Homo sapiens: one gene and its partners. The protein of the gene in region 1 interacts with the protein of each later gene in a biochemical or structural test. Each region holds a gene or a part of one and is shown in the gene's direction. Other genes may lie near its edges. The genes, in order: FBXW7, CUL1, CCNE1 and JUN.

The links.
Region 2: the proteins of FBXW7 (region 1) and CUL1 form a complex in vitro, tested with the Homo sapiens proteins (3 studies listed by BioGRID).
Region 3: of the proteins of FBXW7 (region 1) and CCNE1, one has a biochemical effect on the other in vitro, tested with the Homo sapiens proteins (18 studies listed by BioGRID and IntAct, with this or other methods).
Region 4: the proteins of FBXW7 (region 1) and JUN form a complex in vitro, tested with the Homo sapiens proteins (3 studies listed by BioGRID, with this or other methods).

Annotation. Positions count from the first base shown.
Region 1 is NC_000004.12:152,407,087-152,414,121, reverse strand, and holds part of FBXW7 (F-box/WD repeat-containing protein 7), read left to right. Parts: intron 1-1,592; 5' UTR 1,593-1,642; intron 1,643-2,249; 5' UTR 2,250-2,318; coding exon 2,319-2,819; coding exon of another isoform or gene 2,820-2,849; exon of another isoform or gene 2,850-2,962; intron 2,963-7,035. UniProt on the Homo sapiens protein: Substrate recognition component of a SCF (SKP1-CUL1-F-box protein) E3 ubiquitin-protein ligase complex which mediates the ubiquitination and subsequent proteasomal degradation of target proteins.
Region 2 is NC_000007.14:148,693,970-148,701,902, forward strand, and holds the start of CUL1 (cullin-1), read left to right. Parts: upstream 1-4,933; 5' UTR 4,934-5,060; intron 5,061-5,740; exon of another isoform or gene 5,741-6,161; intron 6,162-7,933. UniProt on the Homo sapiens protein: Core component of multiple cullin-RING-based SCF (SKP1-CUL1-F-box protein) E3 ubiquitin-protein ligase complexes, which mediate the ubiquitination of proteins involved in cell cycle progression, signal transduction and transcription.
Region 3 is NC_000019.10:29,821,956-29,824,812, forward strand, and holds the end of CCNE1 (G1/S-specific cyclin-E1), read left to right. Parts: intron 1-40; coding exon 41-175; intron 176-284; coding exon 285-396; intron 397-490; coding exon 491-648; intron 649-1,699; coding exon 1,700-1,822; 3' UTR 1,823-2,357; downstream 2,358-2,857. UniProt on the Homo sapiens protein: Essential for the control of the cell cycle at the G1/S (start) transition.
Region 4 is NC_000001.11:58,781,013-58,788,428, reverse strand, and holds the start of JUN (transcription factor Jun), read left to right. Parts: upstream 1-4,381; 5' UTR 4,382-5,358; coding exon 5,359-6,354; 3' UTR 6,355-7,416. UniProt on the Homo sapiens protein: Transcription factor that recognizes and binds to the AP-1 consensus motif 5'-TGA[GC]TCA-3'.

The DNA of each region.
Region 1 (7,035 bases):
AGATATATTTAGGCAGAAACACGCATAAAAAAGGTTATGCATTGATCAGTTGGCAACAGTGTTGTGACCAGAGGCTTGTGAGAACTGTATTTCCCCTAGGAGCAATGGCTCAGTATTTGTTAATTCAGTGGTTGCAGCAATTTTATAGAACACAATTACTGTGAATGGGAATCAACTGTATTTGATTAACGGTGGTGATTTATAGGGACTTTAGATACCAGAAATGTTTCATAATTCCCTTTCTCTGAAATCACTGTTTTAATATGTTTAAATGCATGCATGCAGAGTTGTGATGTTAAACATAATTTTACTGTGGGTTCTGGTCAAAAAAGATGAAATGTCATTGGTTAACTTGAAAGAGACATTATTCTAAACATTATCCTCCAGAAAATTGACATGTACAGGAAGCATATTGAATGCTCAGCAAATAATTTGTTTTAGAGTAATAATCTTTGAGTATTGTAGTGATTCGAGTTTTGGAAAAGAAGGCAGTATCAGTGTTAGAGAATAATATTCTTTCAGGATTTTATGTAGTTACTTTAAGGTGCATGAAAGGAGACTCAGTTGGGTGTTAAATTCTTGTCCCTGCTTTACTTGAAACTAGTAATCTTGAGAAATTTACTAAATCATTTTGAGCCTTGATTACCTTGCCTGCAAAGTGAGGAACATTTTCAATTTAAAATTCTATTTCTTTTATTAGTATTCTTCCTGACCTTGAATCATTTCTATTCCCATCATGTCCAGTTGCCAAGAAAACCATGCAACTTAATGTTGTTTGTTAGCCATCAGATTTTATTTTACTGAACTCAAGTTCAGTCACATCAGTTACCGATAAAATAATAAGTTCTATATTAATATTTGATATATCTTGACATTTTGTATTATGGTAGGAAGAAATAAAAGACCTTCCTCAAATTTTAGGATATGGGCTTCTGTTTGTTGATGTTTGTGTTTTATGATACACTGTTGTAAATCATACTAAAGGTTTTCTCTGAAAAAGACTAGAATTGACAATACTTCATTTGTTAGCAGTTTCAAGTTTTAGATCACGGGTGCATAATTTCTTGTGTGTGCACAACATGTTGGCATTTTATCTGACTTCAAAGATGTCCATATAGATACCAGCAAAGGATAAAATGTAAGAATGAATATCATGAAAAGATGCTGTATCAGATAAAATTCTAGAGCCTAGGTTAAAAAACATAAAGGCAAACATGCTTGATATATAAAAATTGAGAAATATGATAAAAAGAAGTAAGTTTAAAGCATCAGTAATACCACTGCCTAAGATGCAGTTTATTTTGAAATGTTGTCTTCTAGTCTTCATACAGTTTAAAAATCATACTATAATCACAATTTCCAGCATTTTCCCCTTAGCATAATATATTATAACATCCATGTTTTTAAAAATATTTTATGAACGTCATGTTTAGGGATTACACCATATATATCCCATCTCATAGATTCCTTTATATTGAACATTTGGATTTTTATTTACATTTTTATTTACATTTATTTTTATCTTTATTTTTTGCTTTCGTGGATAAACTGCAGTGAGCATCCTCTGTATAAATTTTTTTTTTCTGTTTTAGGATTACTTCCTTAGGATAGATTGCCAGAAGTGGAGTTACTGGGTCAGAGGGTATGAACTTATGAACTTTTTTTTTAAATAAATTTTTTGTTCATTTTCTGTCCAGTCATTTGTAAAAAAATTAAAATAATAATGATTATAATTGTTACCTGCTAGAAAACTGTGTCTGAAGGCAAGATTCTGTGATCAGAAAAGTTTGGGAAATACCCAGGGTAAAAAGCCTTTTAATCTGATTTACCTCAGCATTTCCCAAATTAACTGAACACTGAAAATTTTTTTTGATACACTTCTTAAAATTTTGTGGAAGTTTTATATAGGATATAGTCTATGAACTACTGATGTAAAATTAAAATTGTTTTATTTGCTTGAAATATTATGTTTTATTGGTCAAAGGAATTAAACTATAAATCTTCATGCTAAAAATTATTAAAAGGGATTAGTGTTGTTTACTATGGTTTTTGTGCATGTCTTTATAAAGTCTTATAACTTTTAAAATTGAAATGTTCTATATTGTTTACTAAAGAACATTTTAATGCCTTGGTGGCATCAATACTTTTTTGCAATCATTAATGATATTTAGAAAGTAGACATATAACATGAAAGTAGAACATAATATAGATTGTACAAATCTTGTTTTTTACCCTATTTTCCCCTGCAGAATGTGAAAACCTTTGCATCTTCTGATAGTCTAGCCAAGGTCCAAGAAGTAGCAAGCTGGCTTTTGGAAATGAATCAGGAACTGCTCTCTGTGGGCAGCAAAAGACGACGAACTGGAGGCTCTCTGAGAGGTAACCCTTCCTCAAGCCAGGTAGATGAAGAACAGATGAATCGTGTGGTAGAGGAGGAACAGCAACAGCAACTCAGACAACAAGAGGAGGAGCACACTGCAAGGAATGGTGAAGTTGTTGGAGTAGAACCTAGACCTGGAGGCCAAAATGATTCCCAGCAAGGACAGTTGGAAGAAAACAATAATAGATTTATTTCGGTAGATGAGGACTCCTCAGGAAACCAAGAAGAACAAGAGGAAGATGAAGAACATGCTGGTGAACAAGATGAGGAGGATGAGGAGGAGGAGGAGATGGACCAGGAGAGTGACGATTTTGATCAGTCTGATGATAGTAGCAGAGAAGATGAACATACACATACTAACAGTGTCACGAACTCCAGTAGTATTGTGGACCTGCCCGTTCACCAACTCTCCTCCCCATTCTATACAAAAACAACAAAAGTGAGTATATTCAATATATTGTTAACCTGAGAAACTTTACATATCTATTTTAATTGTAATGAAACTTTCCTCACAGTCTTTGTATTACTAAAAATTAATCTTAAGATGTGTAATAATAAAATGAACTAGTTTTTTGTCTTACAGAAGGTAATGGAAAGTATTACAAGTAGAAATACTGATAATGGGACAATCTGAGTACAAATGGAGGGAAAGTAATTGAGCCTATTACTATGAAAAATTATTAACATCAAATTTTCGTCTAAACCTTGCGTCCCGGGCAGGGATTAGTAGCTTGTGTGGGGTGTAGAGGTTTCGGGTGAAACATGATTTGTGTAAATCAAGTAATGAAGAAACTTTTTATTTACAAAATGCAGCTGCTAGAGTGGGCTATTCACAAGTGTCACTCTAAGGCATAAATTACTCAGAAGTTGCCTCAAATTAGTTCTAGTTATTTATCATTTGAGAATTAGAAATAATGAATATTCATGTAGAGTAGACTTACAAGTTAAACTATGTTTTGGAAAGGAACATTTTAACTTGAATATACTTGTTTTATAGACATTAACATAATGTCTGTGGTAGTTCATCCTCTTACTCCTACTTGCTTATTTCTTACATTTTACAGTGATTTTAGGCCATAAACAATATACAAACTGATTTAACATCGTATCGTTTAACCTAACTTGACTTGGAATGAAGTATCTTACACACTTGGATTAATAATAATTGAAATGCTAAATCATGTTTTACATCTGCTTGTAAAACCTTACTTTCTAAAATGTGTTTGGCCCTAATTTACCTAGCCTATCTGCAAGTCAGATTTTATTTAGCTGGCATGATCTAAGAAGGACGTGACATCAAGTAGTGATTTTTCATCCATTGTACCATCCCTGTCTCAAGATGTTGAAGCAGTAGCTTTGGATCTCAGCCAGATGGCTCTACCACTAACAACTATAGCACCACTTTGTTAAGGCTCAGACCTTTTATAGTGTCATTCCTCCCTTTTGCCCCCCTAGTCTTGATCATCTTCTTCAAGGTTGCTATATCAAAAGGGAGTTTTAACATCTCTTTTTTTCCTGAGGGTTCAGTTAGAGGAATAGGGGTTTAATACTTAAGGTCCAATTGCACTAACTTATTTCAGAAAGAGGTTCAATCAAAACTAAGCCTTGCGGAACAATGCAGAGTTATTGCTGATTTCTGCTACACTTTAAATTAAAAGCAAAAAAAGCTAGTTAGACAAAACATTATCTTTTTCCAAAAGGAAAAGTCATCCTTATATTCTGTAGGAAACCTTCCAGTTCACAAGTTTGACAGGTGCTTTATCTTTTCTTTACCTTCAAGATGTAAAATTTTGTGTATGATGATTACCTTTTTAAAAACGAAGTATACTGAATTTGTTAGTTTTTTTCTAGTGATTCTGAATCATGAATAACAATTATTGTCCTGTACATATAACAAGAATGGACTGGGCTCTAACCATAGAAGGAATACATGTGTGTATGCATTTATGTATATACACATGTACAGTATAGATGTGTGTATGCATTTATGTATATACACATGTACAGTATAGATGTGTGTATGCATTTATTATATAAGTGTGTATGTATAGTTTTTGATATATTGTTGATCATGAGATGATCTGCCTTCGTAAGTATGGCATGAAGAATACAAAGCTATTTGATTGCCAGGACAGTGATACCCTTCTACAAGTAAGATTTCAGTCTGAAATTTTTCTAAATGTTTTCCTTTTTGTCCATTCCTGAAACCCTTCTGCCAGAGTATTCCCAGAGCACTTTCAACAGCATTAAAAAAAGTCACTGAGTACTGCTTCACCTAAAAAGAAAATGTCAGTATTCTCCGTGTATACATGTTTTAATACAATAAATAGAAGCTCTCACTAGTTGAAGTACTTTATTTTGGAAGAGCTTTAAATTCTTGATCATTATAAAGTTAAGACACTTCTACAGATGTTACCCTAGACCATAGTTTCATTCAAGTCTTCTTTGACTTTTGAGAGTAGAGGCATAAGAAATGAAATCCCATTTTAAATGTTAACATAGGATTAGCTTTCTACAAATTTTACTCAGGATACCTTTCAAGTTTTATTTTTTGGCATTCTCATAAACAAACCCTGTGGACAGCTAGACTGAATTTTACCCATCATCCCTAAATATGCTGCATAAGCAAATATATTAATGAGAAAAAAAGATTTTTAATTCTTCCTTGCATTGCTTTATTCTTTGAAAGCATTCTGAAAACTGTCAACACTCTGAGGACAGTTTTTCCCCCCTTGTCACTAAAGGTTTGTTCTTTTGGGAGCCTTATGGCAAGCAATATATGTTAAAAATTCCATGTTGTCTTAATGTTAAAAGTCAAGGGAAGTGGTAGTCAAGAATTGCTATTTATTAAGCTCACACTGTTTGAAAGATCCTACTACAGATACATAAACAAAAGTTACAGAGAGGCCGAATGATCCACCCCAGATTACACTACGTGATGAGAGATTTTAATCCTGATTTGCCTAATAGCAAAAAACCCCTTTCTCTTTCCACATGCTATGCTGCCCCCTATGGTTGAATTTGACAAACATCACTGAACAAGATTTCCAACATAGTCAGAGACTCTGCCATGTGATGATTTTCTGATACTATGTCCCATTTGAAGTGATAAGAGCTACCCTATAGAAAGGACAGAGGGCTCAGTTAACTACTTTTCTTTGTGGCACTTAACAAAACATTATTGAAGATTTTACAGCTCAAGGCTAAAGTAATCAGGAACAAATGACGCTGTTAAAAAATTTTATAGAGGTCATACTCTCTTGAATCCATAAAACATGCTTTTAAAGCAGAGGTTGTGTGCTGGCTATTCCTCTAAATCTTGCTTCTCCAGATACAAATGTCTGTCTCTTCAGTTTTAACTCTCATTCTCAACATCCTTATCATATTTTTTTAAAAAAAGTTGTTTTCTGAAGATATGCCCAGCTCATATTGAAGAATCTTTGACATATTTTATGCAGAATATCAACTAATTTTCTACTAACATGAAAAACAAATGAGATGATTATTAGGCCAGATCTGGTATCCTGATCTTTTGATGAAGAGAAGTGTGTTTGAGCATTAATTTCTGATGCTTCCATATCTATCTTAGTGGCTTCCACCTGTTCTCTTCTCACATAACTTCCTTACCTCAAATTAGTCTATTTTTTTCCCATCTTGATTGTTAGATTCTTCCTAGTAATTAAATCGTTTTTATCCATTTGCCTCAAATAAGAAATAAATGTTTATCAAAAAATAAATATATATAAAAGATAGCCAGGTGTGGTGGCTCACACCTGTGATCCCAGCACTTTGAGAGGCTGAGGTGGGCAGATTGCTTGAGACCAGCCTGGGCAACATGGCAAAACCCTGTCTCTACAAAAAATACAAAAATTAGCTGAGTGTGATGGCATGCGCCTGTGGTTCCAGCTACTTTGGGGGCTGAGGTTGGAGGATCATTTGGGCCCAGGAGGTTGAGGCTGCAGTGATCTGGGCCACAGAGCAAGACCCTGTTTCAGAATAAATAAATAGAGGGTGGGGGGAGGTGTGGAGAAGCATCTAGTGTATTGGAGTTTAGAGGCGTAAGACCCTTTCTTGTCTATAAATTCTGAACAATAGAGGAATCAGGTAATAGGATCATTAACCAATCAGGGTATCTGGTCCGCCATTCTCCAACCACCTCCTAGGACCAGAGCTGCTGAGCAGCTTTGTAGGATAATGTGGCTAACATTGGAAATATAACAGGGCTCTAAGTTACACTCTGTTGTAGAGTTCTAGAGAATGATAGCTTCTTCAGAAAGTCCCTGGCCTAGTCTACCTGCAAGACAAGCAACTTAAGTTCAAAGTCTGTTTGGTATATACATGTCCAGAGAGCAAAAAATGCTATTTAAGGCAGTCATCTTGAATAACATCCACTAGTAAACATGGCCCAATGAATAGCCATGTCCCCTACCTTTGTGAAGGAGGAAAAATGAAACATTGACTCAGCCTAATTTAGCCCAATTTTAAACATGTGGGGAGGATAATGGAAATGGGAGAAATGGGGACAATGGGTGAGATGGGTTTTCCCCTAACATATTAGAGTGATAAGAACTTTTCACATCTGAGTTTGAATTCTGATTATACCACTTACTGTATAACCATGAGTATATAATCTCAGTGAACCTATTACTTTATCT
Region 2 (7,933 bases), on another chromosome or scaffold:
GAAACCCATCTCAAAAAAAAAAAAAAGCAACCTGATTGAACTAGTTAATGCCAATGTGTGAACAACTATCAAGCACTCCTACCTCCTAGAGCCATTTGCATCTTTAAGAAATGATACTTAAGAATCTTTGGTGGAATTCCAGGCAATAAAAACAAGGCCTTTGTGTATTTGTTTACATAGGCAACTTATAAGTCAAGAGTCGAGAGGATGAGGTCTACCAATACTATGTTTCCCCTTCAGACAGTTTGTGACTTTGGTAAGTGTATTTCTGCATCATACTTTACATCTAGTTACCTCTATTATTACAATCTTGTTTATTTGGCATTTGATGGACCAAAATTAGCTACAAAATCCTTTTTAATGAAACCAAAGTAGGGGATTAGGCCGGGTTACAGTAATGCCTGTAATCCCAGCACTTTGGGAGGCTGAGGTGGGAGGATCACCTGAGTCCAAAAAGTTGAGGCTGCAGTGAGCCATGATCATGCCACTGCACTCCAGCCTGAGCAACAAAGTGAGATCCTGTCTCAAAAAAAAAAAGGACAGAAGGTAAGAAAGAAATTAAACTAGGGGACTTAAACACCTACTTCTTCAAAAAGAATTTAAAAATCTAGGTATAAGAAATCGTTCGATTATTTCATCTCTTTCCAGCTTCCTTTGGATACTAATCTAGTTGAATTACTCTGTATAGTTAGTTACAGCATATACGTAACTACGTTTATAAGCAGAACTATTTTTTTTAAAAAAATCACAAGTAATGTATATTTCATGATTTGGATTAAATAAACAAGTTTAATTGAAAAATTATCATTGTCATAGGTAATATTTATTAAGGATTTAACTTACAACAACCTTATATGAGATACTATTATTATTAATTTTTTGAGGCAGAGTCTCACTCTGTCACCCTAGGCTGGAGTGCAGTGGCGCAATCTCCACTTACTGCAACCTCTGTCTCCTGGGTCCAAACGATTCTCTTGCCTCAGCCTCCTGAGTAGCTGGGATTACAGGTGCATGCCACCACACCCGGCTAATTTTTGTATTCTTAGTAGAGACAGGGTTTCACCTTGTTGGCCAGGCTGGTCACCTCAAGTGATCCACCTGCCTTGGCCTCCCAAAGTGCTGGGATTACAGGCATGAGCCACCATGCCCGGCCAAGCTACTATTATTATCATCCCTATGTCATAGACGAAGAAACTGAGGCACAGAGAGGTTAAGTAACTTGCTCAAAGTTCCCCAGATAATAAGCAACGATGCCAGGATATAAACTCTGGCAGTTTCATGTTCCCTCCCGGCTGCTTCCCACCTACTTTTGATTCAGTAGATCTGGAACAGGGCCCTCGGAATTAGTAAAGTCCCCAGCTGATTCTGAAGCAAAGCCAGGTTTGAGAACCATCCTGCTAATTCACTTTGCGCTGGATGGCTAGTTACTTACCTGTGTCTTAGAAATAACAGTTCATATGGTTAATCAAGTAACACCTGTACCCTTTCATTTCAGTAGTAAGCAAATTTGCTTGGAATCTGCTTCAGTGTTCTTTGGGCACAGTGCTGAGGGGGCAGGTGAACCTTAGGAAATTGTCTCTCACCCCACAGCACAGACCACCTAGTTTAAAGGCACATGTGAACAGGCAATCAGGGAGAGATCACAAAGCTTGGGTAGAAGGTGTAAGGTGGGCTTCCTGGGAGGGGGTGTGAGCTGGATCTTGAAAAGTGAGCATGATTTGGAGATGGAGGAAAGAAGTGGGAAATGGTATCTGTTAAGGGAACAACTGAAGGAGGCCCTCATAAATGGCGACTCACAGCTCATCTGTGGGCCAGTGAGTACAACCAACAGGACCGGATGGCATTGAGAGTTCCTTCTGGGAAGTGGCAGGAAATAAATTTGGAAATGCAAGTTTGGACAAGATCTGGTAAACCTTAAGTGCCAGGTCCAAATTTGGATTGAACACTATAAACAATATGGAACCACTGAAGCTTGAAAGGACAAAATTATAATGATGAAGGTATCAGTTTAGAAGGAATAATCTGCCATCAGTCAGGACACAAGTGGAAGGATAAAGAGATAAGAACCAGGAAAAGCATTTAGAAGGCTAAAGGACCAACATAAGTGTGGGAGAATATCTTAGTAAAGGAGTGGATATACACAGAATCATGAGTCACTGGGTCAGGTTATGCCACTGATCAGGCTGAGTGATTTGGAGCAAATTGCCTAACATCTCTGAGCCTTAGGTTTTTTCATTGAAAAAATGGGTATGATGATGATAATGACTGACCCAAAAGAGGCAAACGATTTCTCTACGATGGTGACAGCTCTGGGATACAAGGTGAACGGGCCAGGATTTTGAGTCTGTTTCCAGGTCTGTATGAATTAAAGAATGTGTTATGAATGGCAACAGAGACAACCACTTTGTGGACGATGAGGAAGGGAGGGGAACTAATGGTTGGTGAATGTTCCACGAATTACGTGGGAATTATAAATAAATTACTCTTCACACTCTTATGAAGTAGGTATTTTTATCTCAAATTAACAGTTGACCTTACTAGAGCAAAAGATAGTAATTTGAGTTACTGGATATGACTCAAATTTGGGTAACTAGATACAAACCAAGGTCTAAAATCTAAAACTTGGGCTTTTCCAGCTAGTACATCATATTTAGATTTGAAAGTTATATTTTATTTCATTGCTTTTGGCCTAATGTTGTAGCCTGTTGAGACTGTTTTGAACTTTGATTCTGACATCTATCAAATTAATTATCCCTCCAAACTTTGGGTCATCCGAGAGAGACATCAATTTTGCTGAGTTGGGGGGTAAAGATGGAGGAAGGATGTTTTAAAGTAGAAAGAGAGCAGCAGGTGGCCTTGACTTGTGAGGTAGGCGGCAAGGTTATCTGCGCAAAGTAAATGCAATCTGGATGTTAAGTGGACGTAAAAGTCGATGGAATAAATTTGCTGCTAAGAATGATCGTGTAGGCAGGTGGAGAGTAAAGAATAGAAAGGAGTTAAGAACCAGGAATGGAGGCAGTGAGAAGAGAGAGGGTGGTGTGGGTGGACCAAATACTGCTATTAAGGAAAAAGAGAGGGTGGAGGAAACAAACAATACAGGGAAGGTTGACCCACTCAGCCCTTCTATTCAGCTGGAGGAAGTCACAGAAAAGGAGGCTATATTGAATGGTAAGATTGGAGAAGACTGGTTAGGGAATAGGAAGATAAGCTGTTGTCTAAAAAACGCAGTCTCCAGTAAAAGGAAGAAATTGGGACATTTTTTTAAAACCCCACATAGGTACACTGGAAAACATGGGCCACAGGGATAAACCTTCCATTTTTACTTCCAACCTTACCATGTGCTCACAAAAAAAGGTGTTAAATACATGTAAGTTTTGACGAGGTTATTTAAAAGTGTAGGATATAAACCAAGAATTTTTCACACCCCAAAACCCCGCACAAATTAAGGGATTACATATCTGAGTGACAAGTACATACAAACGCATTACTTCTAGAGATACTTAGATGTAGATAAAAGACCACATTTCAATAGAAGGATCACACAGACCAGTGGGATGTTTCTTCTGAGATAACCCACTTTATGCAGGAAACAGTGTGGACTCTGGGGACGGCCTCTGCTCTGGCTGAGGATTTCTGTCCCAGAGCGGTACAGGAATCTGCGTAGTGTTTTAGTTTGGAGAAAACAGGAAGTTACACTCATCACATCTTTTGCCCAGATGATAGAATTCGAAATCCCCCCGGGGTTGTTCATGGAATGAGCCGCTCTGTTATGTTGTGAGCCGTGGTATTAATCAGCCACCCCTCACTAGGTGTTGGGGTTCCACCACGCTTCCTCCACCCCCCGTCACCACAGCAGCGGGTAGTATTTAGGTTGAATATTCCAAATAGTCAATTATGACAGTTAATTTCAAATGAGATGACTTCGAAGTACACGTGAAAACAATACTATTTTATATCACGACTCATGCCATCCGTATGTGTAATCAAAGCCTTCTAAGTCTTGATATGTCCTTACAAAGACGAAGGATAGAGTGAATGTCAAAATTTGCCAAACAGGAGTTACTGAAAGTCTGAAGGGGAAAGCCTAGTTAGGTTTTATCTTAGAAGTGATTTTTAAAACGAAACACGCAGATAAGCTCGAGCTTTCTGGAGCCGATTCCTAAGGCCTTGCAGGTGGTAAGGGGGTCGAGAATTGGCTGAGGTTCCTCGGAAGTCCGCGCCGATTCGGAGGGCCACCTCTGACTTTCTGATCTGGGGTGCAACCCCCAGTCCCTGTCCCGGTCGACAAAGGTGTGGAGTCAGGTTCCAGGCAAGCTGGGGGTGGGGGTGCGCACAAGGGAGGGGCAGGGGACTGGGACCCCCTCTTCTTCGGGGTGCTTCGGGCCGTTTCTCCAGAGGCTGGTGGTGTCCCCGACCCAAGCAGCTCAGCCCCGCTCGCGAGGTCCGAAGTGGCGGGAACGGGTCCTCCGCGGCGGTCCCAAGGCGAGGGAGGCTGTAAAACCTGGCAGAGAATCCGGCGCGCCGGGTCGGGGATGTCTCGGGTGCCGGGGGCAGGGGCCGCAGGCTCGCAGGTAGAAGCTTCCCCACGCGAGCGGGGGCCTCGGCCGCGGAAGGGGCGCCCCCGGGGCCGCCGGCAGCGGCGAGCGGGCGGGAGGGAGCTTTCCGGGCCCCTCCCGCGCCTCGGGCTGGCGGGGCGATGGCGACGACGGTTTCCCGGCTCCCCCGCCCCGGACGCCGATGGCGGTGCGTTCCGGCCCTCCCCCAACAGCTTCTCCCCCGCGGTCGCCGGAGCCGGTGAGGCCGAGAGGGCGGGGAGCCGCGCAGGGAAGGCGAGAGGGCGGAGGTTGCGTGGTGCAGGCGGCGGCGGCGGGAGGAGGAGGGCCGGGCGGGCAGGGGAGGAGGAGGAGGCGGGCGCCGTGTCGCACGCAGCTCCAGGCGGGGCAGCCCCGGTAGCTGAGGGACGCAGCTAGACCTTGGCGGGACGGGGCTTTCGCCGGGGCCCAGGCCCAGGGACCAGGCGGAGGCGTCGCGGGAGCCTTTGGGGCACCACAGAGATGCGGGTGAGTGTCGGCAGCCGCCGGGGCCGAGAGGAGGTGGCGGCGGCGGCGGCGGCGCAGGCCCGGCCCCGAGCCGCGGTGTCGCAGTGACTCGGGCCGCGACGGCCGAAACCAGGCGCCTGGCGAGGCCTGAGCCGCCGAAACGCGGCCGGGCAGAATGGCGGCCGGGCCGGGGGACTCGTGGGCGGAGGACGCCGAAGGTGGCAGAGGAGCGAGCGGGGCCGGGCCCTGAGTCACCCCGGACGGGCCGGGGCGGCCAGGCCTGGACTACGCACTGGGAAAAAGCACGATTCATCGCGCCTGGAGGCGGCGGCCTGGTGGCGCCGGCCCCTTTCCCCGCCGCGACCGGGCTGGGTTCTCGGAGGGTGGGCCGACGTGTGGCCCGGGGCGGCTCGGGCGTCCGCGCCTCGCCTGGTGAGGCGACCTCCGCGGGACGCCGGGACCCGTGCCCTTGCCCCCTCGCGCCCACGCTTCTTCCCGGCGCTGCTTTCCGGCCGACGCGTGTTCCCCTGTGAGCTCTGGGCTCAAGCGCAGGAGCAGCCGCGGAGCCGGGCTCTCTCGCTTTCCGGTTCCCTGCCCGCGGCTCTCGGGTTCCCCGCCTGCATTGTTGCGAACGTGCAGGGCGCTATTATTGGGTAACAGTCGCCCTTTTGCCCCGTTCTCCTGGGAGAGCGGGCCGGGGCATGCGCGCAGGGATGCTAGCCCGGCGGCCGAACCGGACAGAGCCCCCCGGCGCCCGCCTATCGCTCGCTAGTCGGGCCGGGCCCTGCGCTGCGGCCTCGGCGCGCCCCCGGTCCCAACGGGAGCGCGCGCCCTGACCCTGAGGGTAGCCGTGCGCCCGCCAGGCCGCTGGGACTTGGGGTCCCCAGACTCGGGGGTCGTCGCTTTTTTTTCCCTTAAGATCTGAAAGACCCCCGTTTCTGCCACCCGTGCAGTATTGTGTAGCGCAGACATAAGATAAGAAAGAGAGGAATGCTTGTAGACATTCCTTGAAATGAATCCCCAAAGTTAGGGTTTTCTCCCTGGCTGGCTTTGCCAAAAAGAGGATTCTCTTTTCCGATTGGGTCACTCTTGGTTGCTTCTGGTTCGTAGTAGGGGTTAGTGGTAAGTGCGCAAATACTGAATTGCAGTCTACTTAAATATTTGTTTGCTCTGTGTAATTGCTCTTTCCTGTAGTAGCATTAAAATCGTCAAAAGTTCTGAGTGGAGTAAACGATCACACTTTTTGGAATGCACTTAACGAAGCGGCAGAAGAGGAACTAGATTCCTTTTTTACTTCAAGCCATGAGCTTCTAGGACCTAAGCATAGCTTAACGCCTCGCAGAAGTGTGTGCAGTTTTAAGTTTAACACTTCATTTCATGGTGCACCCGAAAATGTACCCGATTTTCTGAAATCCTGGAGAGTGTATTACGTAGTAAAATATGTAATGATGTTTAAAATGTAAAACCAGTCATTCTGTTTGAAAAAGATATTTGGAGATGAGATTTTTCTTTGTTTAAAGAAGGTTTGTTTTTGGATATTGAAAAATGTTTTACTTGAAGGTTCTATTTGTTGTTTTCCATGGTGAGTCGAAATAGTTGCGTTACATTTCAAATTCCAAAGCATGCAAACACAAGACTGGCTCGCTTTAACTCTATTAATGCCCATTTTTGGAGGTTTCAGGAGAGTGTTCCTTAAGCTTGAGAGGGATGGCTGAATTGCTTTCTAAATATGTTAAACTTTTTTTCTCATTGGCTTCATCTTTTAAAAACGATTTTGTCAAAAAACAAACCAAATTTAGATATGCTAGGGTTTTTCACCAATTTATAAAAGCCTCCCTCCCTGAGAGCCACATGCTCAGGTCCTTATAGCCAGCCCCACCCCCCACTCCTAATGTGTGTACCACATCAGAAGACAGACACGCATGCCTGAGCTGATTCTGCATGGTTTCCTTAGATATTACAGTTCATTAGACTCTTGCCACTTACTGAATATTATCTTCTAGCTGTAATTAACTACATGACAGCCTTATTTCCCATACATTTCCGATTGTGAATTCCTCCAGCGCAGGAGATATTCCTTATTTGTTTTTGCGTCCCCAGAGTAACAGAACTTGGTTGTGGTGGTGCCTCAGTTGCTTTTTTTTAATGAATGAGTTTTCTGGAATAATTCTAACTTAAACTTAACGTTTGAAAACATGCGCTGATTTTTGGCTACAGAAAACACAGTCGTTGTGCTTAAGCCGGTTAAGAATTCAAGCTTTATTATACACTTCTCGAGTAAAATTGATCGTCTCTCTCATCCCTCCTTTTCTATTCCCCCTTCCCTCTTCACTTCCCTTCTCCCTGAAACACCCCAGTATCTAGTACAGGGCCCTAACAGAAAAATGCCCAGGTTTTCTATACCTATGGAAGTCTGGGAAAGTGCCAAGAAAACAGGTTGTGAAACTTTAACTTTTTTCCCCCTTAAAACTAGTTTTAAGGTGTGGATGTTTTTACTTTTTGTGTTTGGTGTTTTTTTGGAAACACGATCAGGTTTTTCCCCCCAGGTTGAGTATCCAGCCTTGCCTTTGCAATGAAGCAGTTTGGTAGTTAAGGCTCCTCCTTGTAGATGAGGCAAGCCCCATGGTTCTGCTGGAGTGGGATAGGAAGTTGCTGTAGGAGGAACCATCCCTTGGTCTCTGAGGGCCATTCATCAGAATGTCATTCCCAGTATACCCAGTGGTGTCTGTCTTTCAGCATGGAAAATTAAAATGAATGTACTTTAAATTGAGGAGTTGTTACTTGCCATTCTTCAAATTAAAAATATTAGGGCCTTAAAAACTTAGGAACTTGGTTTTTTGTTTGTTTTGCTGTTTCAGCCTTCCGTAGGTCCTAAAGCCAGTGACCTTGAGTCA
Region 3 (2,857 bases), on another chromosome or scaffold:
TTCTCAATCATCGGTCTCTTTTCTCTCTGTTTTCCTTTAGGCCCTTAAGTGGCGTTTAAGTCCCCTGACTATTGTGTCCTGGCTGAATGTATACATGCAGGTTGCATATCTAAATGACTTACATGAAGTGCTACTGCCGCAGTATCCCCAGCAAATCTTTATACAGATTGCAGAGGTAAGTGGCTCCATCACGTCCGTGGGGCCACCTTCCCTGCAGCTGGAGTGAGGAACTCTAGAATAGGCGTGTGGTGGCATCCATCTCAGCGTTCTTTTCTTCTCCGTAGCTGTTGGATCTCTGTGTCCTGGATGTTGACTGCCTTGAATTTCCTTATGGTATACTTGCTGCTTCGGCCTTGTATCATTTCTCGTCATCTGAATTGATGCAAAAGGTTTCAGGTAAGTTGGCTTTCCAGTGCATGCACAAACAAGGTGTACTAAGCTTACATCCAGTTGTCAGCCTCAGATTAAGCCCACGATGTCTTCACTGCAGGGTATCAGTGGTGCGACATAGAGAACTGTGTCAAGTGGATGGTTCCATTTGCCATGGTTATAAGGGAGACGGGGAGCTCAAAACTGAAGCACTTCAGGGGCGTCGCTGATGAAGATGCACACAACATACAGACCCACAGAGACAGCTTGGATTTGCTGGTCAGTGCTGCTCCTTCTTTCAGTCCTTCTTGGCCAAATTCTTAAAACTGCCTAAATAGGCCAGCCGCGGTGGTTCAGGCCTGTAAACCCAGCACTTTGGGAGGCCGAGGTGGGCCGATCACTTGAGGCCAGGAGTTCAAGACCAGCCTGGCCAACATGGTGAAACCTTGTCTCTACTAAAAATAAAAAAATTAGCCGGCTATGGTGGTGGGCACCTGTAGTCCCAGCTACTCGAGAGGCTAAGGCAGGAGAATCATCTGAACCCGGGAGGCGGAGGTTGCAGTGCGTTGAGATCACGCCACTGCACTCCAGCCTGGGCAACAGAGCGAAACTATGTCTCAAAAAAAAAAAAACTGCCTAAATAACCTGTTCACTTTTCTTCAGGCAGGCCCCAAATATCCTTGAAAAACTCCAATTTTAATTAATTGAAAAAGAAAAATCCTGGCAAATTGATGCTGTATCTCACTATCATATAGACTATAGAGTTTTAAAGTGCTCTTTGATATTTTTTTTTCTTTCACTCACCTCCGTAGAAAAAGACATAGTGGCCAGACACAGTGGCTTTTGGAGGCCAAGGCAGAAGGACTGCTTAAGCTCAGAAGTTTGAGACTAGCCTGGACAACATAGGGAGACCCTGTCCCTAAAAAATTTAAAAACTAGCCAGGCATGGTGGCACATGTCTGTAGTCCCAGCACTTTGGGAGGCGGAGGCGGGCAGATCGCCTGATATCAGGAGTTCAAGACTAGCCAGGCCAAAATGGCGAAACCCTGTCTCTATGAAAAATACAAAAATTAGCTGGACATGGTGGCGGGTGCCTATAATCTCAGCTACTCTACTTGGGAGGCTGAGGCGGGAGAATCGGTTGAACCCTGGAAGTGGAAGTTGCAGTAAGCCGAGATCCCACCACTGTACTACAGTCTGGATGAGAAAGCAAGTCTCCATCTTGAGAAAAAAAAAAAATTTAAAAATTAAAAAAGAAAAAGCCTATGGTAATTGAAGCCCAAGGATATGTTCTACTCTAATGTGTTGTCCCTTTTATTCTTACCAACAGGACAAAGCCCGAGCAAAGAAAGCCATGTTGTCTGAACAAAATAGGGCTTCTCCTCTCCCCAGTGGGCTCCTCACCCCGCCACAGAGCGGTAAGAAGCAGAGCAGCGGGCCGGAAATGGCGTGACCACCCCATCCTTCTCCACCAAAGACAGTTGCGCGCCTGCTCCACGTTCTCTTCTGTCTGTTGCAGCGGAGGCGTGCGTTTGCTTTTACAGATATCTGAATGGAAGAGTGTTTCTTCCACAACAGAAGTATTTCTGTGGATGGCATCAAACAGGGCAAAGTGTTTTTTATTGAATGCTTATAGGTTTTTTTTAAATAAGTGGGTCAAGTACACCAGCCACCTCCAGACACCAGTGCGTGCTCCCGATGCTGCTATGGAAGGTGCTACTTGACCTAAGGGACTCCCACAACAACAAAAGCTTGAAGCTGTGGAGGGCCACGGTGGCGTGGCTCTCCTCGCAGGTGTTCTGGGCTCCGTTGTACCAAGTGGAGCAGGTGGTTGCGGGCAAGCGTTGTGCAGAGCCCATAGCCAGCTGGGCAGGGGGCTGCCCTCTCCACATTATCAGTTGACAGTGTACAATGCCTTTGATGAACTGTTTTGTAAGTGCTGCTATATCTATCCATTTTTTAATAAAGATAATACTGTTTTTGAGACAGCTGGTTTTATGAGCTATGTCTGGTAACTTAAGGTAGCAGTCAGCTTTAATTGTGGTTATATCAACTTCTGTTTTTTGACTTCATACTTCTTGAGGCTCAAGTCTTTCTTTTTTTTTTTTTTTTTTTTTTTTTTTTTTGAGACAGGGACAGGGTCTCGCTCTGTCACCAAGGCTGGAGTGCAGGGGCACAATCTTGGCTCACTGCAGCCTCTGCCTCCCGGGTTTAAGCGATTCTCCTGCCTCAGCCTCCTAAGTAGCTGGGACTACAGGCGTGTGCCACCACACCCAGCTAATTTTTGTATTTTTAGTGGAGATGGGGTTTTGCCATGTTGGCCAGGCTGGTCTCAAACTCCTGACCTCAGGTGATCTGCCCATCTCAGCCTTCCAAAGTGCTGGGATTACAGGTGTGAGCCACCACACCCAGCCTTGAGTCTTAACTCTTTTGGTCAAATACATTTTTCAATGTATTTGATGGAAAGGAAACTTTAGACGTGGGCTTC
Region 4 (7,416 bases), on another chromosome or scaffold:
AATAACAACAATAAGCATAACAACAATAAAACTAAACAATCATTTAGAGGGCGATAACTAAGAACACTGCTATCAGAAGCTGAAGGGATGGTGATCTGTTTGGTAAACATATCACCTGTGATAATGTAGAAGGCAGATCATGAACCTGATGAACTAAAGAAAAGGATTGTAAAACAGAGAGTGAGTAGTGTGTGTTGGTGGCTGTTGGATGCATTCTGAAAGTTACTACAAGCTATTCAAAGATGAACTCAGAAAAATTTGGCCTGTTTGCAATCAGGAATGAAATGGAATAGAGAAAACCTATAAATCCAGGGATTTACATCGTTAGAAGAGGCAATTGTTTCCCAGTCCCGACTGGTAAAATATAAAATCAAGAAATACTTTTAGCAAGAAAGGACCTGGAAGAAACTAAGCTTTGAAGTAAGGATCAAGTCACAAAGTATGAACCTACTATTAAAACCTCAGGATAGGAGGCCGAGGAGGACGGATCACCTGAGGTCGGGAGTTCGAGACAAGCCTGACCAATATGGAGAAATCCTGTCGCTCCTAAAAATACAAAATTAGCCGGGCGTGGTGGCGCATGCCTGTAATCCCAGCTACTCAGGAGGCTGAGGCAGGAGAATCGCTTGAACCCGGGAGGTAGAGGTTGCAGTGAGCCGAGACTGTGCCATTGCACTCCAACCAGGGCAACAAGAGTGAAACTCCGTCTCAGAAAAAAAAAAAAAAGGATCAATTAAGATCTTACCCAGTATATACTTTCAACTGGACAAAATGGCTCTGGGAAAAGGAAGAAAGGTCTAACTCTCCCATCAAAACCCAATAAGCCCAAAGTGCTCAAAATCAAGTGAAGAGCAAGAGAGTGAGACGGCAAAAGAGAGACAGAGGAGTCAACAGGCAGGAGAGCAGGAAAGCAAAGAGATATGGCAAACCAAAGAAGTATGTCTGGAAAAGAACTTTGTGGCTATTGTCACATGGAACACCTCATATCAGATAGATAAGAAGCCTACCTACACATATTCAAGACTTAATGTCACTCTGCATCTCCCCAACTTTTAAAAGCTTATTTAAAAGCATATTTTCCAATGCCTGCTTTAGCTGTGGAAAAGGAAGACTCTCCGAGGGCAAATCCAGGAGTCATGGAAAACAATGGGCAGGGCAGCTTGGTGCTGTGACTGGATGGGTCTTTAAGGTTGTTTCCCTTGAATAAAGAATGAGGGAATTCCACCAGGGGAAGGAGAGTAGACCAAACATTTGGTGAACAGAAAGGGAGACAGAGTCTTTAGTGTTATTCCCCAAATATTCCTGGAGAGCCCTTTGAGACACCTGGTAGGATTATAGTGATCTAAAGAGGCATGGCCATGTGACTGCTTTGGCCAATGATGTATGGGCAGAAGTGATGTGTGCCATAAGTGGATGCTCTGACAGCCATGATGTTCCGAGTTCCTTCCCCACAGTCAGGATAGCTGTGAAAAGGGGTATCAACACGAGGCCTCCTTCAGCCTGAGCCCTTTAGTGACTACAATGAGCAGAGCTACCCTGCCAACCTACAACGGTCATGTAGCAGAAATGACCAACTTTCACTGGAATAAGCCACTGATATGTTAGGGTTGTTTGTTAGGGCAGCATAACACTGCCTTTCCTGACAGAACTGGGAGTGAGAGATAAGGCTGGAGAGAGAAGGAGTTGGATTGTGAAAAGCCCCTTCTCCAAGGCATAGGAATCGGAACTCTCCTGATTGTAAGGAAAAGCCAATGAAGGCTTCCAAGCAGGGGCGTTAACATGAACAGATTTGTTATTTTTTTGGATGAAATATGCTATTTCTCAACATAAGGAGAAGATCAGCCTACTAAACCACATGAGGCAGAGAGGAACACACAGAACCTTAGGCAAAAGATATATATTTATGCAAAGTCCTAAGTCTTGAAATTTCTAAATACAAGAGCTCTGAACGGAGTTACAGTCAGAGGATCAGGCAAGAAAATTTCTTCTATGCCACAAGCGCTATTTCCTCTGCAGATAACTAATACTCCACAAGAAAGTTTGCCAGAGTAGAGAAAATACAAAGGAATGTAACACAGACCTGAGGTCAATTTCCAGCTGCCTGTGTGACCTCAACAAAGATACTTAACCTCTCTGGGCCTATTTCCTCACATGTTAAATCTGGATAATAATATATGTCTCTCAAGACAGTTGTGGGGAGAAAACAGCGTATTTAAATTGCTTAGGAGAATGCCTGGCAGATAATAAGTGTTTAATACATGAAACTGATTTTTATTACTGTTATTAAAAAATATTTAGAACACCAACTCCCTGAATACAACAGAAAATGATTCAGGGCAACAGACAGAGGAGAATGTTCTCTCCTTGAGGAAGCAACTGGATCTTGTCATCACTGTATACCTACCTACCCCACCCCCTCCCCAGCTCAGTGCCTGGCTCACAGTAGGCTTTCAGTTACCCTCTGCAGATCAGTGAAAGCTAGGTGAGTGCCCGGAGTGAAGAAAAGTTGGCAGGTTTCCCACTGATACCAGCTGCTGTTGGTTTCTGAACACTCAAAGCCGCAAATACCTTAGGGCTGGGGGCAATGAACCCAAGGCTGAATTCCAAGTTCAGAAGCAGCGAAGTCTGAATTTAGAACCTAGGAACTTAAACTGCTGCAGGTCCAACTTCAAGCCCCAGTTTTAGACAGAGGCTTGGGAAAGATCTGACTTCTAACCCGGTTCCCCCTCCCCTCCTCCCCTCGATGCTTCTCACAGGAAAGTACACCTGGTCCTGCCAAATCGCACTCTTATATCCTGGCATCCTATCCAGGCTCTGCGAGGATGGAAACTGCGAGGCAGGGGAGGGAAGCGGGCTGTTTGGCCACCACCTCCCTAGTGCTGCAGGCGACCCTGTCACACTAACTCCTGGCAGCCCAGTGAGGTGGACGGCACCGGCCCCACCTGCAGATGAGGGAAATGAAGCTCGGAGGAGTTCCGTGATTTGCTTGCTTCACACTGTGGTAGCCTGGCCACGAAAGAACCAGGATTCCCGACTTCGGGATTCTTTCCACCACACACTTTCGTCCCTAAGGGGTGGGGGGCGGGGGGAGAATAAAATAACCGCGGAAAAGGAACCACTTACATGTGTCTAGCGCTTCCTAGAGGCTACCCAGGATATGCGCCCACCACCCGGCCGGGAGTGCAGAGATTTGAAGTCCAGGTTCTACCCCGGGCTCCGAGTACTACTGCGTGACTTTATGCGAGTGTCCGCCGCCTTCTGGGCTTGTTTTCCCGGAAGCAACTCGGCGCGGATGGAGTGTGTGTGTGCGCGCGCGCGCGCGTTATGTTGTGCGTGTTGTGTTAAGCGTGTGCGTGTTGTCCGGGGGCGGGAGGGGGAGTAGACTAACACCGGGGTTCCCCGAGTTTCGGATCGCCTACACGCTTGTTCCCATCTGGACCCTGTTACCCACCAATTGCGCCCACTATAAAAACTGCCCCTCCGAGGCAAAGCTGTGAACCCCCGCGCCCTTTCCCCCACGGTCCCGGAGGATGAAGTGGGGTGCAACGGAGACTCAGCTGAGCGTCCAGTTTCGGGCAATACAAATCTCTCGGCTTCTACGAGCAGCCAGACGACCCCGCGGACCGTCGCTCCTGAACTTGACCGAGATGCAAACTTCGGAGTGTTCTCAACGTGGGGGGCCGACTCTCGGGAGACCGCCCCTAAACTTAAGTCCCCTTAGGCTCGCCCCCACCTGGGACTTCACAGAGCCACCTTAAGGGCGGTATTCCCGCCCCCCCGGAAGTGCGGGGGGGTGGCAGCGTACTTGGATTCTCAGCCTCCAGCCCCGCGCGGTGGCGGCCGCCGGTGGATGACTTCGGGCCCCACAAGTGGGGAAACAACAACCACCCCTCGCCCGCACCCCTGGCCCAAAACAACTGGCCAGGTTCCCTGGCCTCCCGGGTCCCTGCATCCCCCGCATCCCCGTCCGCAGCCGTGAACTTGAGCCCCCCTCCATCAGAGGTTGCGAGCGTCCGCCCGCTCGCGGCAGCCACCGTCACTAGACAGTCAAACCCCAAGACGTCAGCCCACAATGCACCGGGCGGGCCGGGAAAAACGGCCCGGGGAGGGGACCGGGGAAGAGAGGGCCGAGAGGCGTGCGGCAGGGGGGAGGGTAGGAGAAAGAAGGGCCCGACTGTAGGAGGGCAGCGGAGCATTACCTCATCCCGTGAGCCTCCGCGGGCCCAGAGAAGAATCTTCTAGGGTGGAGTCTCCATGGTGACGGGCGGGCCCGCCCCCCTGAGAGCGACGCGAGCCAATGGGAAGGCCTTGGGGTGACATCATGGGCTATTTTTAGGGGTTGACTGGTAGCAGATAAGTGTTGAGCTCGGGCTGGATAAGGGCTCAGAGTTGCACTGAGTGTGGCTGAAGCAGCGAGGCGGGAGTGGAGGTGCGCGGAGTCAGGCAGACAGACAGACACAGCCAGCCAGCCAGGTCGGCAGTATAGTCCGAACTGCAAATCTTATTTTCTTTTCACCTTCTCTCTAACTGCCCAGAGCTAGCGCCTGTGGCTCCCGGGCTGGTGTTTCGGGAGTGTCCAGAGAGCCTGGTCTCCAGCCGCCCCCGGGAGGAGAGCCCTGCTGCCCAGGCGCTGTTGACAGCGGCGGAAAGCAGCGGTACCCACGCGCCCGCCGGGGGAAGTCGGCGAGCGGCTGCAGCAGCAAAGAACTTTCCCGGCTGGGAGGACCGGAGACAAGTGGCAGAGTCCCGGAGCCAACTTTTGCAAGCCTTTCCTGCGTCTTAGGCTTCTCCACGGCGGTAAAGACCAGAAGGCGGCGGAGAGCCACGCAAGAGAAGAAGGACGTGCGCTCAGCTTCGCTCGCACCGGTTGTTGAACTTGGGCGAGCGCGAGCCGCGGCTGCCGGGCGCCCCCTCCCCCTAGCAGCGGAGGAGGGGACAAGTCGTCGGAGTCCGGGCGGCCAAGACCCGCCGCCGGCCGGCCACTGCAGGGTCCGCACTGATCCGCTCCGCGGGGAGAGCCGCTGCTCTGGGAAGTGAGTTCGCCTGCGGACTCCGAGGAACCGCTGCGCACGAAGAGCGCTCAGTGAGTGACCGCGACTTTTCAAAGCCGGGTAGCGCGCGCGAGTCGACAAGTAAGAGTGCGGGAGGCATCTTAATTAACCCTGCGCTCCCTGGAGCGAGCTGGTGAGGAGGGCGCAGCGGGGACGACAGCCAGCGGGTGCGTGCGCTCTTAGAGAAACTTTCCCTGTCAAAGGCTCCGGGGGGCGCGGGTGTCCCCCGCTTGCCACAGCCCTGTTGCGGCCCCGAAACTTGTGCGCGCAGCCCAAACTAACCTCACGTGAAGTGACGGACTGTTCTATGACTGCAAAGATGGAAACGACCTTCTATGACGATGCCCTCAACGCCTCGTTCCTCCCGTCCGAGAGCGGACCTTATGGCTACAGTAACCCCAAGATCCTGAAACAGAGCATGACCCTGAACCTGGCCGACCCAGTGGGGAGCCTGAAGCCGCACCTCCGCGCCAAGAACTCGGACCTCCTCACCTCGCCCGACGTGGGGCTGCTCAAGCTGGCGTCGCCCGAGCTGGAGCGCCTGATAATCCAGTCCAGCAACGGGCACATCACCACCACGCCGACCCCCACCCAGTTCCTGTGCCCCAAGAACGTGACAGATGAGCAGGAGGGCTTCGCCGAGGGCTTCGTGCGCGCCCTGGCCGAACTGCACAGCCAGAACACGCTGCCCAGCGTCACGTCGGCGGCGCAGCCGGTCAACGGGGCAGGCATGGTGGCTCCCGCGGTAGCCTCGGTGGCAGGGGGCAGCGGCAGCGGCGGCTTCAGCGCCAGCCTGCACAGCGAGCCGCCGGTCTACGCAAACCTCAGCAACTTCAACCCAGGCGCGCTGAGCAGCGGCGGCGGGGCGCCCTCCTACGGCGCGGCCGGCCTGGCCTTTCCCGCGCAACCCCAGCAGCAGCAGCAGCCGCCGCACCACCTGCCCCAGCAGATGCCCGTGCAGCACCCGCGGCTGCAGGCCCTGAAGGAGGAGCCTCAGACAGTGCCCGAGATGCCCGGCGAGACACCGCCCCTGTCCCCCATCGACATGGAGTCCCAGGAGCGGATCAAGGCGGAGAGGAAGCGCATGAGGAACCGCATCGCTGCCTCCAAGTGCCGAAAAAGGAAGCTGGAGAGAATCGCCCGGCTGGAGGAAAAAGTGAAAACCTTGAAAGCTCAGAACTCGGAGCTGGCGTCCACGGCCAACATGCTCAGGGAACAGGTGGCACAGCTTAAACAGAAAGTCATGAACCACGTTAACAGTGGGTGCCAACTCATGCTAACGCAGCAGTTGCAAACATTTTGAAGAGAGACCGTCGGGGGCTGAGGGGCAACGAAGAAAAAAAATAACACAGAGAGACAGACTTGAGAACTTGACAAGTTGCGACGGAGAGAAAAAAGAAGTGTCCGAGAACTAAAGCCAAGGGTATCCAAGTTGGACTGGGTTGCGTCCTGACGGCGCCCCCAGTGTGCACGAGTGGGAAGGACTTGGCGCGCCCTCCCTTGGCGTGGAGCCAGGGAGCGGCCGCCTGCGGGCTGCCCCGCTTTGCGGACGGGCTGTCCCCGCGCGAACGGAACGTTGGACTTTTCGTTAACATTGACCAAGAACTGCATGGACCTAACATTCGATCTCATTCAGTATTAAAGGGGGGAGGGGGAGGGGGTTACAAACTGCAATAGAGACTGTAGATTGCTTCTGTAGTACTCCTTAAGAACACAAAGCGGGGGGAGGGTTGGGGAGGGGCGGCAGGAGGGAGGTTTGTGAGAGCGAGGCTGAGCCTACAGATGAACTCTTTCTGGCCTGCCTTCGTTAACTGTGTATGTACATATATATATTTTTTAATTTGATGAAAGCTGATTACTGTCAATAAACAGCTTCATGCCTTTGTAAGTTATTTCTTGTTTGTTTGTTTGGGTATCCTGCCCAGTGTTGTTTGTAAATAAGAGATTTGGAGCACTCTGAGTTTACCATTTGTAATAAAGTATATAATTTTTTTATGTTTTGTTTCTGAAAATTCCAGAAAGGATATTTAAGAAAATACAATAAACTATTGGAAAGTACTCCCCTAACCTCTTTTCTGCATCATCTGTAGATACTAGCTATCTAGGTGGAGTTGAAAGAGTTAAGAATGTCGATTAAAATCACTCTCAGTGCTTCTTACTATTAAGCAGTAAAAACTGTTCTCTATTAGACTTTAGAAATAAATGTACCTGATGTACCTGATGCTATGGTCAGGTTATACTCCTCCTCCCCCAGCTATCTATATGGAATTGCTTACCAAAGGATAGTGCGATGTTTCAGGAGGCTGGAGGAAGGGGGGTTGCAGTGGAGAGGGACAGCCCACTGAGAAGTCAAACATTTCAAAGT